Regions from separate parts of the Homo sapiens genome. Here region 2 is linked to region 1. Evidence: fine-mapped expression QTL. A gene starts in region 1. The other region holds a variant in brackets. All regions are shown on one strand. Distances are from middle to middle.

Region 1 (5,384 bases):
TTATTCTAAGAGTGTTTGAATATCATGTAATGCAGAAAGTGTAAGATAGGGCATATTACACTGATACCACTTATCACTGGGATGATGAACAATTTTGAATAAGATGCGATCCCCTCTGTATTTGACCAGGTTCACTTTGTAATTATTAGCAAGGCAGTAAATAATCTACCAAGGAGCAGTCTCATTAGTGCCCATTGAAATTCAGCAGCATTAATTTGCAATAAAAGAACTGAAAATTAAATAGGGAAGAAAATGGTTTCTGGAGTCCATCATAAGGTTATGGAATTCACATCATACCAGTGCCTTCCTTCACATCAAGCAGTTTTAAATGTTGTGTGGAATTAGACTTAATCGCTGTACTTTGTTCTTCCATTTAAAAAAAAAAAGGTGGGCAGAAGAAATCCTTTTTCTCTGTTTTAACCCTAAATTAAAACAAGTAAAATTAATTTGAAATATGCCAACCTTTAAAAGTTTTGTTCATTGTTTGTCTTTTGAGTAAAGACAGCTTGGATCTGCGTGGCTGTGGGATGCTCTAAATTTCTCCAAGGCGGCTGAAGATGCACACTGAATACCCCCAGAATCTGCCCTTCAGTATCCTCTGGGGCCAAACTGCACTTTAGTCCCCTTCCTTCTGCTATAAATATCCCTGGAAACAGAATACTGAACAAAAACTGGTCCACGGCTTACAAGGCAGAAAGATATAGGGACACCAGTCCGGATACCAGTGTACAGTTGGGAAATGCCTAATTCAGGACCCAGCCATGTGGCGCCCTGAAGCTTCCAAACCCAGTCCGGGGTACACCTGTCCTGTGGCCACCTAGGAAGGTGTTCACCAGAAGCGCCCACCTAATCCCTCTGCAGGCCCATCAGGAAAACAAAAAACAAAAAACAAAAGGAGAAACTGGGCAAGAGAAAATGGGAGGGAGAGGAGAGGGAGAAAGAACAATTCTTGTAGGGAAAAAAATTAAAATGAGGACACACAACCTTCGCCATTGAAGTCACAAAGTGGTCTCCTGTGTCCTGGACCGGCCGCGCTCCTTCCACAGTGGCTGCGAGGCGCAGACCCTGGCTGACCCGCACGCCACTCCGGGGCATTCTCCCCGGGTGGGACAGGCTTGTCACTGGGCTGGCAGGAGATTATTTTTAAGCACTTGTGCTTCCATATGGCTTGTTTTAAACTCGCGGGACACCTACAAATTTCCGGCTGTCAGAAGTCACATGCCAGCAATCCGCTCCAGCGCGGACTCAGCCAGCTAACTCCGAAATCAGACCCATTCAACTCCCAATCGCTCTCTAAAGCCCCAGGACGTGGGGTGGGGAGGAGGGGAAAGCGGGTGACAGGAATCGCTTCCCAGAAAGTCATCATCATAGCTGACATATTTCCAATCAAATAGTCTAGATGAAAGGAAATTTGGGGAGCACATTAAACAAAAACATTAAAAGGATAAATAAAACTCTGCTGAGCTCTGCTAACTCCAAACACCCCCAACTTTAAATGCCAAGAGCGAGACCTTCCCAAGTGACTCAAAGCGCCCCGTGTTTATTTGCCTGGAGGTGTTTTCCCCCACAAATAACTGCTGCTTTGTCTGGTTTTCCAACGTGTGTTTTGTTAGGAAGCCCGGGCTTTCGGGTCTGCCTCTCGCACGGACGGTAAGTGGGTGGAGAGTACGTTTTTTTCAGCTGCCCGGCGAGAGAACTTGACTCTGAACGCAGCGCGGGCTGCACGCAGAACCCCCGGGCTGGGCCGCGCGCCCCGGGCTCCCTGCGCGCACCCTCGGGTCGCGCGTCCCGCGGCTCCCGCAGCTCCCTAGGCTCTCCCTTCTCCCTCCCTCCCTCCCTCCCTCCTGCCGGGCGCGGCGGCCACCCCGACGGGCGGCGCGGGCGCGGGTACCTGTAGAATGCCGGCGGGCCGGCCTCGCGCACCGTGTAGCCGCTGGGCTCGTTCTCCAGGTAGTAGGGCACCTGCTGGCCGTGGGGCTGCAGGAAAGGCGACAGCTGCGGCGGCGGGTGCAGTAGCATCAGCGGGCTCGGAGACACGCTGTTGAGTGGGGGGAAACCCCCCAGGCCGTTGGAGCCGAACGCCGCAGCCTCAGACCCGGGGCCGTAGGGGAGGCCGGTCTGACCGTAGACCTGCGCGTTGGCGGCGGCCGCGGCGTTGAACTCGTAGGCGGCGCCCTCGGGGTAGTTGTACACGGCGGGCTTGCTGCTGTCCAGGTACACCTCGCCCAGGGGCCGCTCCAGGGGGATCTTGAGCTGCGGACGGTTCAGGGGCTCCAGCTCGTTCCCTTGGATCTGATGCAGTAGGGCCATCCCAGATGCTTTGGTGTGGAGGGTCATGGTCATGGTCCGTGGCCGCGGGCAGGGTGCAGACCGTGTCCCCGCAGGGCAGAAGGCTCAGAAACCGGCGGGCCACCTGGAAAAAGAGCACAGCCCGAGGTTAGAGGCGACGCAGCGCATGTCCCGCCGACACGCGAGCTCTGGCCCCGGCCCTGCCCCGGGAGCCTGCGGGTCCGGTGAAGCCGGGCGACCCGACGGGAGCAAGTGCAGTCCCAGGACGAACGCCCTCCGCCAGCTCCTGGGCTCCCGGGCCTCCAACTTTAAGTACTGGTCTCCCGAGCTCATATGCATTACAAAGGTGCTGGAGGACGGCCAGGGACTGTTGCCTTGCCCTGACATTGGCTTAAACATCACTCCAGGCACAACTCGATTTGGAGCGATCCCAAAGAGCAGCTTCCCTGAACTTTACTTTACTTGTCGTCGCTGCTGGATAGAGGCTGAGTTTCACGGCCAGGGGGCGGGGGCGCACGAGGATCTGCTAAAGGTGGCCCAGGGAAGACTGGGCTTAAAATAAACGCGAAAGACGGATCCAGGGGCCGGCTTTCTCTAATGTGCTGCCTTATGTGCCCCGTGCCAGACTCCGATATATCTCTGTTTGTCTCTCTTTCTGTTTGATTCCCCCTCCTCGTTGGCTAGAAATACGTAGTGTGTACATAGGATGACCCTGGGGAGGACTACACTGTAACCGAGATAGGGCAGATAGAATGGGGTGTGCGGTTGCATACGCAGCCAGCCACAGACAGCTATATTTAGCAGCTGGGGGAACTGACAGGGGGCATCTGAGGGGAAGGGGGCGGAGATTCAGGGTATACATATAGGAAGAGCTGCATTTTGCCATCAGGAGAATGCAACCTGCCAGGACCTCAGTTTCTTCCTCTGCAAAATGCTCCCAAAGTAGATAGACCCTTCCACAACCTTCTGAGATTCTCTCAGCCTGACTTGTGTGTTTATGTTGGACCACAGTACTGTACTTGGTCCCATTAGGAATTCTCATGTGAAGGATGATTCAGAAAAACCTTTGGTTAGGGCGCACATGGGTGTTCATGCCTTCCACAGGTTGGTTATGCAACCAAAACTTCAGAAAACTGAATATAAAATGTGACCTTTTCATACCAAACATAACCTCAGGTCACGAACCAAAGCTTTGGCAATTATGTTACATTGTCGGTCTGGTCCAGCTAACAGATTTTTAAAATGCATTTCTGCATGTCTATCCTTTAGTCCTACAACTCGATCTTCTCGGTTCACTTGGGCTAGGATATGCAGAATCAAATATCCAGATGAAAAACAAATAGAAAAAAGTTTTTAACTGAATTAAAAGTTAAACATGCACACGCACATACACACACACATATATGTGTATATATATATATATATATATATATATACATATTAAGGAGACAAAAAATAGGTGAAGTATATCATGCGTCTATAATCTTGGATAGTTTATACTTTTGAATAAACTTCCTTTGCTGCAGCCTAATAGACTCTGATACAACTATCAATACTTTGTTTTAATTGCTATCCCAAACACCCAACAGAGTATCTGACGAAGTGTTCATGGTCTATCTAAATGCCAAGCTTACTGTTACTAAGAGTTACATTTTTGACTATTTTATATCAAGTATACATTTTATCTAATTCTTACAAAAATAGACCATTGTTGGACAATATGCAAATGTAGCTGAAGCCAAAATCGAGTTTAGCATTAATGACTATAGATTGTCAGCAAATAAAGGGTTAAAAACACATTAGGTGCATCGCAGATATTTCCCTTTATGGCCAGCAATCATTACTTTCCAAAGCAATTTTTTACAGATGATTTAATTTCCATAAATCACACTTTCAATTTTCAAATGCCTTTTTAAAACACATGCAAAAAGCACTTCATAGGGCTCTTAAAAAATGTGAACCTGCCAAATTATATGCAAATGGCACAAAGAATCCTACAAGTCCTGAAAGAAAAAGGAGACACACACATACCCCCATGGAGAACAGCAATCCTCATCTCCCTGCTAGGATACAGACACTAGCCAGAAAGGTAAGTTGCTTTCTCAAAATGCTAAAGCTACAGAGAGAGAAATCAAAACAAGCCTACCCTGCTGGATCAAGAACGTCTTTCCAGAAATGTTCCATGGGCTTGTAGAAGTCAAGGGCCGAGAGAGTGAGAAGGAAGGAAGGAATGTGCTCGCATGTGCGAGTGGCTCAGTGTGTGAACTAGGCAGAGAGAGTGTGTGGATGTGTTTGTGCGTGGAATGGCAGGGATTCGGGAAGCAGCCAGTAGGCAGGGCACTTGGCAGCCCCTCCCGGCAGACACGCAGCTGGGCTACTGCACAGCGCTGGATGAATGGCAGTGGGGAGTGAGGGGAGACTTGCTGTCTGCTCACAGGGAGCAGTGTGGCACAGCCAGAGAAAGCTGTACTGGGGAGGAGAAACCCCAGCCCCTTTGCCCCTACCCTTGGAGGCTGGAAAGTACCCTATGCTTTCTGCTGCCACCCCAAGCAAGAGGAAAAACAGGCTTGCTGTGAATCATAGTCTTACGGCTAAAATAGAATGCCAGTCAAAAGTGTATGGATATCAAGTTTACAAAATAGGACATGGGTGGTTTTTCCGAAAGAATATAATTTAACAATAAAAGCCTTCTGGGATACATGTGGATCAAATGCCTTACTGGCCCTAGCCCCCAGTCTCTGAACAGAGGCATTGCCATGCCTCCGATTGCACCAGGAAACCAGACTTTGGAATAAATGTTTTGGCATTCTAGGGATGTGTTTCCAGCTGAAATGTAATACTCCTCCACTTCGTTAACCAAACCCACAAACCTTTCCATGAATAGCTCAGTTGACTGCTTTCTGTAAACATGTGAAAAATACGTATTATTAAAAGCCTAGGATATGAACATAAGATAAAGGTAGATACCTTTGTTTTAAACTGATTTTAGGCTTTCGAGTTGCACTGACCGTGATTGGGAACGAGGTCTCTCATTTCCCAGTGGCGTTCACATGGATCCACCTCTTGACCACTTTCTCAACTATTCTCTCGGCCAT
Region 2 (5,384 bases), 72 kb before region 1:
TCAGTATCCTTCTGAAACACTAAATGAATCCGTTACTTTATTTATTTATTTATTTATTTATTTATTTATTTATTTATTTATTTATTGAGACAGAGTCTCACTCTATCACCCAGGCTGGAGTGCAGTGGCGCCATCTCAGTTCACTGCCCCCTCCACCTGCCAGGTTCAAGTGATTCTCCTGCCTCCACCTCCCAAGTAGCTGGGCCTACTGGCACTCGCCACCATACCCAGCTAATTTTTGTATTTTCAATAGAGACAGGGTTTCACCTTGTTGGCCAAGCTGGTCTCGAACTCCTGACCTCAGATGATCTGCCCACCTCAGCCTCATGACTTTATTTTAATTACACATTTTCTACTTGTTCTCTTCCACTACACTGAAGGCTATCCAAGACTAGAAGCAATGTTCCTCAAGATGAGACTCCCAAGAATACAATGAGGTCAATCAGGCAACCACATTTATGGGGCTCCTAATATTCCCAGAACTGGGATTCAGTTTCCAGATTCCTGTATGACAAAACTGGAAGATCGGATACATGAGAAGACAGAAAACCACACACACACACAGCCACAAAGACCACAAAAACACAAACCCACAGTCACAAACCATGCATGCTCTGACACTTGTTAGTGTAGTGCTCAGTAATCAACTATGCCAGCACCATGCTAGACACTGAGGTTAAGAAAGTGGCTGGTTCACTCAGGTTCTAAAGGAGAAAACTGCCTTTTGATTGAAATTCACATTCCTTAAGGGATGATAACAGACTGGAAGGCTATAAATTAGCTACTCAGCTTTCACATTTACAAGTCTCAATTTAGGGAAAGTTTATCCTCAGATATCATTTTCTAGCATTTGCAACATAAACAGTAACTGAAAAATATTTCTAGAATAATTTACTAAGCACTCTTCGTTTCCTTCCATCACCGCCTCCCACACACCTTTGATTTAAAATATAATTATTTACATTGAAAATCCAAAACACAAAATGCCATGTTAGAATTTCCAGTTCCAGACACTTCCACCTTTTTAAAATAAAATGGATTATGAAAATACTTTTGTTGCAAAGAAAAATAAGAATAGAAAAAAAACAATTAAAAGAAAAAAACACAAAATTCCCATGGTGTTATTCCAATGGGTAGAGCCAGCACTGGGCGGTGGCCAGGGCCATCCCCAAGGGCCCCTGGGAGAGATGTACCTACCACCTTTCATCATTCCCACTTCGTAGCATTTACGGAGCCGGCAGGCCTGGCAGCTCTTCCTCCTGTTTTTATCAATGGTGCACTGGTTGGTGGCTGGACACATATAGTCGTTATGTCCTATTAAAAGCAAGAGGACAGAATTAATATTATTTCAGGAAACTTAGCCAGTCAGAATCTACAGGGAAACCTTTTGGAGGCTGTTTTCCTATCACTTCCTCAGCCTTACTATGTTGCTCCCCAGCCTGCCTGCCTTTTTCTGTCCTTCTTGAAGTGCAAACAAAACCTCTCATGGGCCGGGCACGGTGGCTCATGCCTGTAATCCCAGAACTTTGGGAGGCCGAGGCAGGTGGATCACGACGTCAGGAGTTCAAGACCAGCCTGACCAACATGGTGAAACCCCGTCTCTACTAAAAATACAAAAAAAACCTGGGTATGGTGGTGTACACCTGTAATCCCAGCTACTCAGGAAGCTGAGGCAGGAGAATCGCTTGAACCCGGGAGGCGGAGGTTGCAGTGAGCCGAGATTGCGCCACTGCACTCCAGCCTAGGCAACAGAGTGAGAATCCATCTCAAAAAAAAAAAAAAAAAAACAGAACAAAAAACCTCCCGTGGACTTAATTTCTACAGCAGCCAATTGCTTCAGGAGTCCTTTGGGCAAGTCACCTTCAGTTCACACAGTCTATATTTTGTAGCACCATATTTTATGTGGTTATATTTTCTCAGCAGATAAGGTTTTTTGGTTTTGGTTTGGTTTGGTTTGGTTTTACCAAGACTGCTTGCCAAAATTGTTGTGAGGGTAGAGCTTTTAGAAATAGAGTTTTCAGAGAGAGAGTTTCAAAGTAGCCCTTCTTAAAATATAATTTAAGTCGGTACTCACATGCAGCACAGAATACCTAAAGTCAAGCCGGCTTGGTGGGCTGGGTGGTGACGAAGTTCAGTCCTTCAGTTCACAAATTAGTCCATGACTGACTACCTGGAGAACTCTGAGCAAGCTACCTGACATTTCTAGATCTCTCTTTCCTCCTCGCTAATCTAGAGGAAATCATGGAACCCACCACATCCAACGATTCTAAGAATTGAATGTGAGAATGCAGGTTAGGAGTTTACCATAGTTCCCCGGATATAGAAAACACTCAAAAGATGTTCGTTGTTGTTACCGTTATTTTATGATGAACCCTCTTTCTTTTCTCTCTTGTTGATTGACTCTCTCTCCCTCAAATGCTCCTTACTCATTGGCTTTGATCACATGCGAGACTGTCCCATAAAAGAGTCTCCCTTGCCCCACATGCTCTCTAACTTCCATCTTCTATCTTATCCCTTGTTCCCAGCTGAACTCAGAAACGTCTGCACATGAAATCTCCTTTTCTTCACCTCTCTTGCATTGCTCAACCCACACCAATCTGTTTTCCACCTTAGTTACCCCAAAAAAGCAACTTCCCTAGGATTACCAATGAATCGCGTTGCCAAATTTTACAGGTATTTTTCAGTCCACATCCTACATAACCTATCTGAAGCAGCTTACAATGTTGATACCTCCCTTCCCGCTGTGAGACAGGCTTTTTCCCTTGGCTTCCATAATCCCAAACACCCCAGTTCCTTCTGCCTCTCAGGCTGCAGCCTCCCGGTATTGTTTACAGATTCAATTTCCTCCATCCAACATTAAGCCAGAGGTGCTCAGGGCTCAATCCTAGGTCTTCTTCTTCTCTTACTACTCCATATTCTCCCACAAGACAATCTAGTGCATGTCCATGGCTTCCATCATCACCAAATGCAGATC[A/G]CTCAGAATGTACGCTCCCAACACAACCCTCTTCTCTGAGCTCCTGGTACATATGTCCAGCTGCCCACAGGAAGTTTCTGCTCTAAGATTTAGAAGTCACCTCCATCCCTTTATCCCTCAAAATAAATCTGGTTTATAGGGAGCAGAATATTAAAATTCACAAACTAATAAATATTGGCATGTTTTTATAAAGTCTGTCTGCATAAGTCTAAATTCTTACATATCTTGGGGAAATGTCCTGAATTTAGACTAAGGAAGTTATGTATACTATTGTAAAACATGGTTCTCATTCTCCCACCCCAAAACTGAATATATATTTCACACCCTAGTTCAGATTCTCTGCTTAAGTCTCTATTTTTTTCCATTTACTAAGGGCAAGATGCAACATGCAGTGAAATGTTTTAACTACAGAGCTCTTTGTTCTTTATTCAACTTAAGGGTCAGGCCCAATTAGAAGAGGGTGGAGTGAGGACTTGACAAGAAATGCTGGCCTCATAAAACTTGGCTTTCCATCTTTAAATATACATTATAAAAGTCACTGTATACACGGGCTTCAGATCAAATTAACATTTGCACTCTTCTATTGCATAACAGAAACCAGCAAACTAGTCAGCAGAGTTATAAACCTGTAACTTCAGTAAAAGACCACACACGGATTCAGATATCCAGACACAGTTATTATTTTTAGAATTGTCCTTATTAATAGGGTCAAACTGAAGAAGTAATAGAACCAGAAACAAAACTTATCTGTGCAGATGCTAACTGCAAGCAAAAAGTGTATTCTTCTGATACCCTAAAGAAACTTTCAGTGTTTAGTCTCCTGTGGTATTTATGCAGTATATGCTGATATATTTCAGCTTTTAACAAAAAATGAGTATATGGCCAGGTGTGGCAGCTCATGCCTATAATTCCAGTACTTCAGGAAGCTGAGGTGGGAGGATAGTTTGAGACCAGGAGTTTTAGACCAGCCTGGGCAACATAACAATATCTTGTCTCTACAAAAAAAAAAAATTAAATATTAGCCTGGCATGATGGCACATGCCTGTAATCCTAGCTACTCGGGAGGCTGAGACAGGAGAATCGCTTGAGCCCAGGAGGTCAAGGCTGCAGTGAGCTGTGATAGCACCACTGCACTCCAGCATGGACAACAGAGCGAGACCCTATCTCTAAAAAAAAAAGAATAAAATAAAAAATTAATTAGTATACATTAAGTTTCAGAAGAAAATAGTCAATAACCATTCAAACCAAATATTACTTTGACTCACTTTCTCCCCAGAGCCAGTTACTTTGTAAGCCAGAAGAAGACAGGAGAACTGAATTGGGTCAGAGACCAGTTGGCTGAGTCTCATGTTTGCACTGGCCATCCACTGTAGATATGTATCTTTGTAGAACCAAGTGAAATTCCTGAACTAACATGTTTAATGAATAAAAGGTACTAGATTTTTACAATTGAATTCGTCTCTTAACAAAAATGGAAATAGATGTACAACAGAATCATGTTCATACGGCAAACCTTTTGTGACAAAGCTAGAATTGATAAACTGACAAAAAGAAAAGTTTAATAAATACATATTTGATATATGCAATTAAAACAAATTCTTATTAACCAAACACTATTAACAACTATTTCTAAGTCTTCAGCTCACGTCAGAAGAAGAAAAACAACAAAGTAGTTTTTTTTCCTTAATGAGTGTAACTTGGTCAATATGTGTTATTAAAGCAATTGATTTAAGTTGCATTAAGATAGCATCGGGAGATATACCTAATGCTAGATGACGAGTTAGTGGGTGCAGCTCACCAGCATGGCACATGTATACATATGTAACTAACCTGCACAATGTGCACATGTACCCTAAAACTTAAAGTATAATAAAAAAAAAAGAAGAAATTCTTTTTAAATTTTATTATCTGGTCTTCTCAAGATAATGCTTGAGAAAATCTTACTGAAGTAGAGTTGATTTTCTAAAAAACAACTCACACCAGTTGTCTTAGTGAAACATAGCAGTGTGTGTGTGTGTGTTTTTTTTTAACTGAAAAGACAGGACTCGATGTATGTGACCAGACTGGCCCGAAAAGTCCTTCTGTGCAGGCCCGGATGAACCAAGCCCATAGGGCCAAAGCCACGATGTGATGTTCAGGTGAAGGTTTGGAAAAATAATCCGCACTATTTTCTTGCCCATCAAAAGATAAAAATAAAAAGCCTCTGGAGGAATCTAAGGTTTGACTGGCAGGAAGTGGAGGGGACAGGAGGTGAATGAGATGGAACCAGAAAGACAGGAAGCGGGGAGAGAAAACGCCTCTCAGTAGGAATCACCGGGCCCACCCCAGCCCCTGCAGCAACAGAAGGACCCACATTCAGCTTTTCCCCAAGCTTCCCTTGTTCTTTTTCCTTCTCTTCTGATTTTCCCTC

What was found.
Region 2: its variant is fine-mapped to the expression of ESR1 in spinal cord (GTEx, PIP 0.99).

Annotation. Positions count from the first base shown.
Region 1 is chr6:151,804,872-151,810,255 of GRCh38, reverse strand. It overlaps ESR1 (estrogen receptor 1), which reads right to left and starts at 2,574. Exons shown (of 8, transcript NM_000125.4): 1 at 1,892-2,574. The coding sequence starts at 2,343.
Region 2 is chr6:151,876,585-151,881,968 of GRCh38, reverse strand. It overlaps ESR1 (estrogen receptor 1), which reads right to left. Exons shown (of 8, transcript NM_000125.4): 3 at 1,198-1,314. Among named protein-coding and RNA genes, the nearest start is that of ESR1, 72 kb to the right of the region's middle. The variant A/G (reference allele first, on the strand shown) is at 2,975.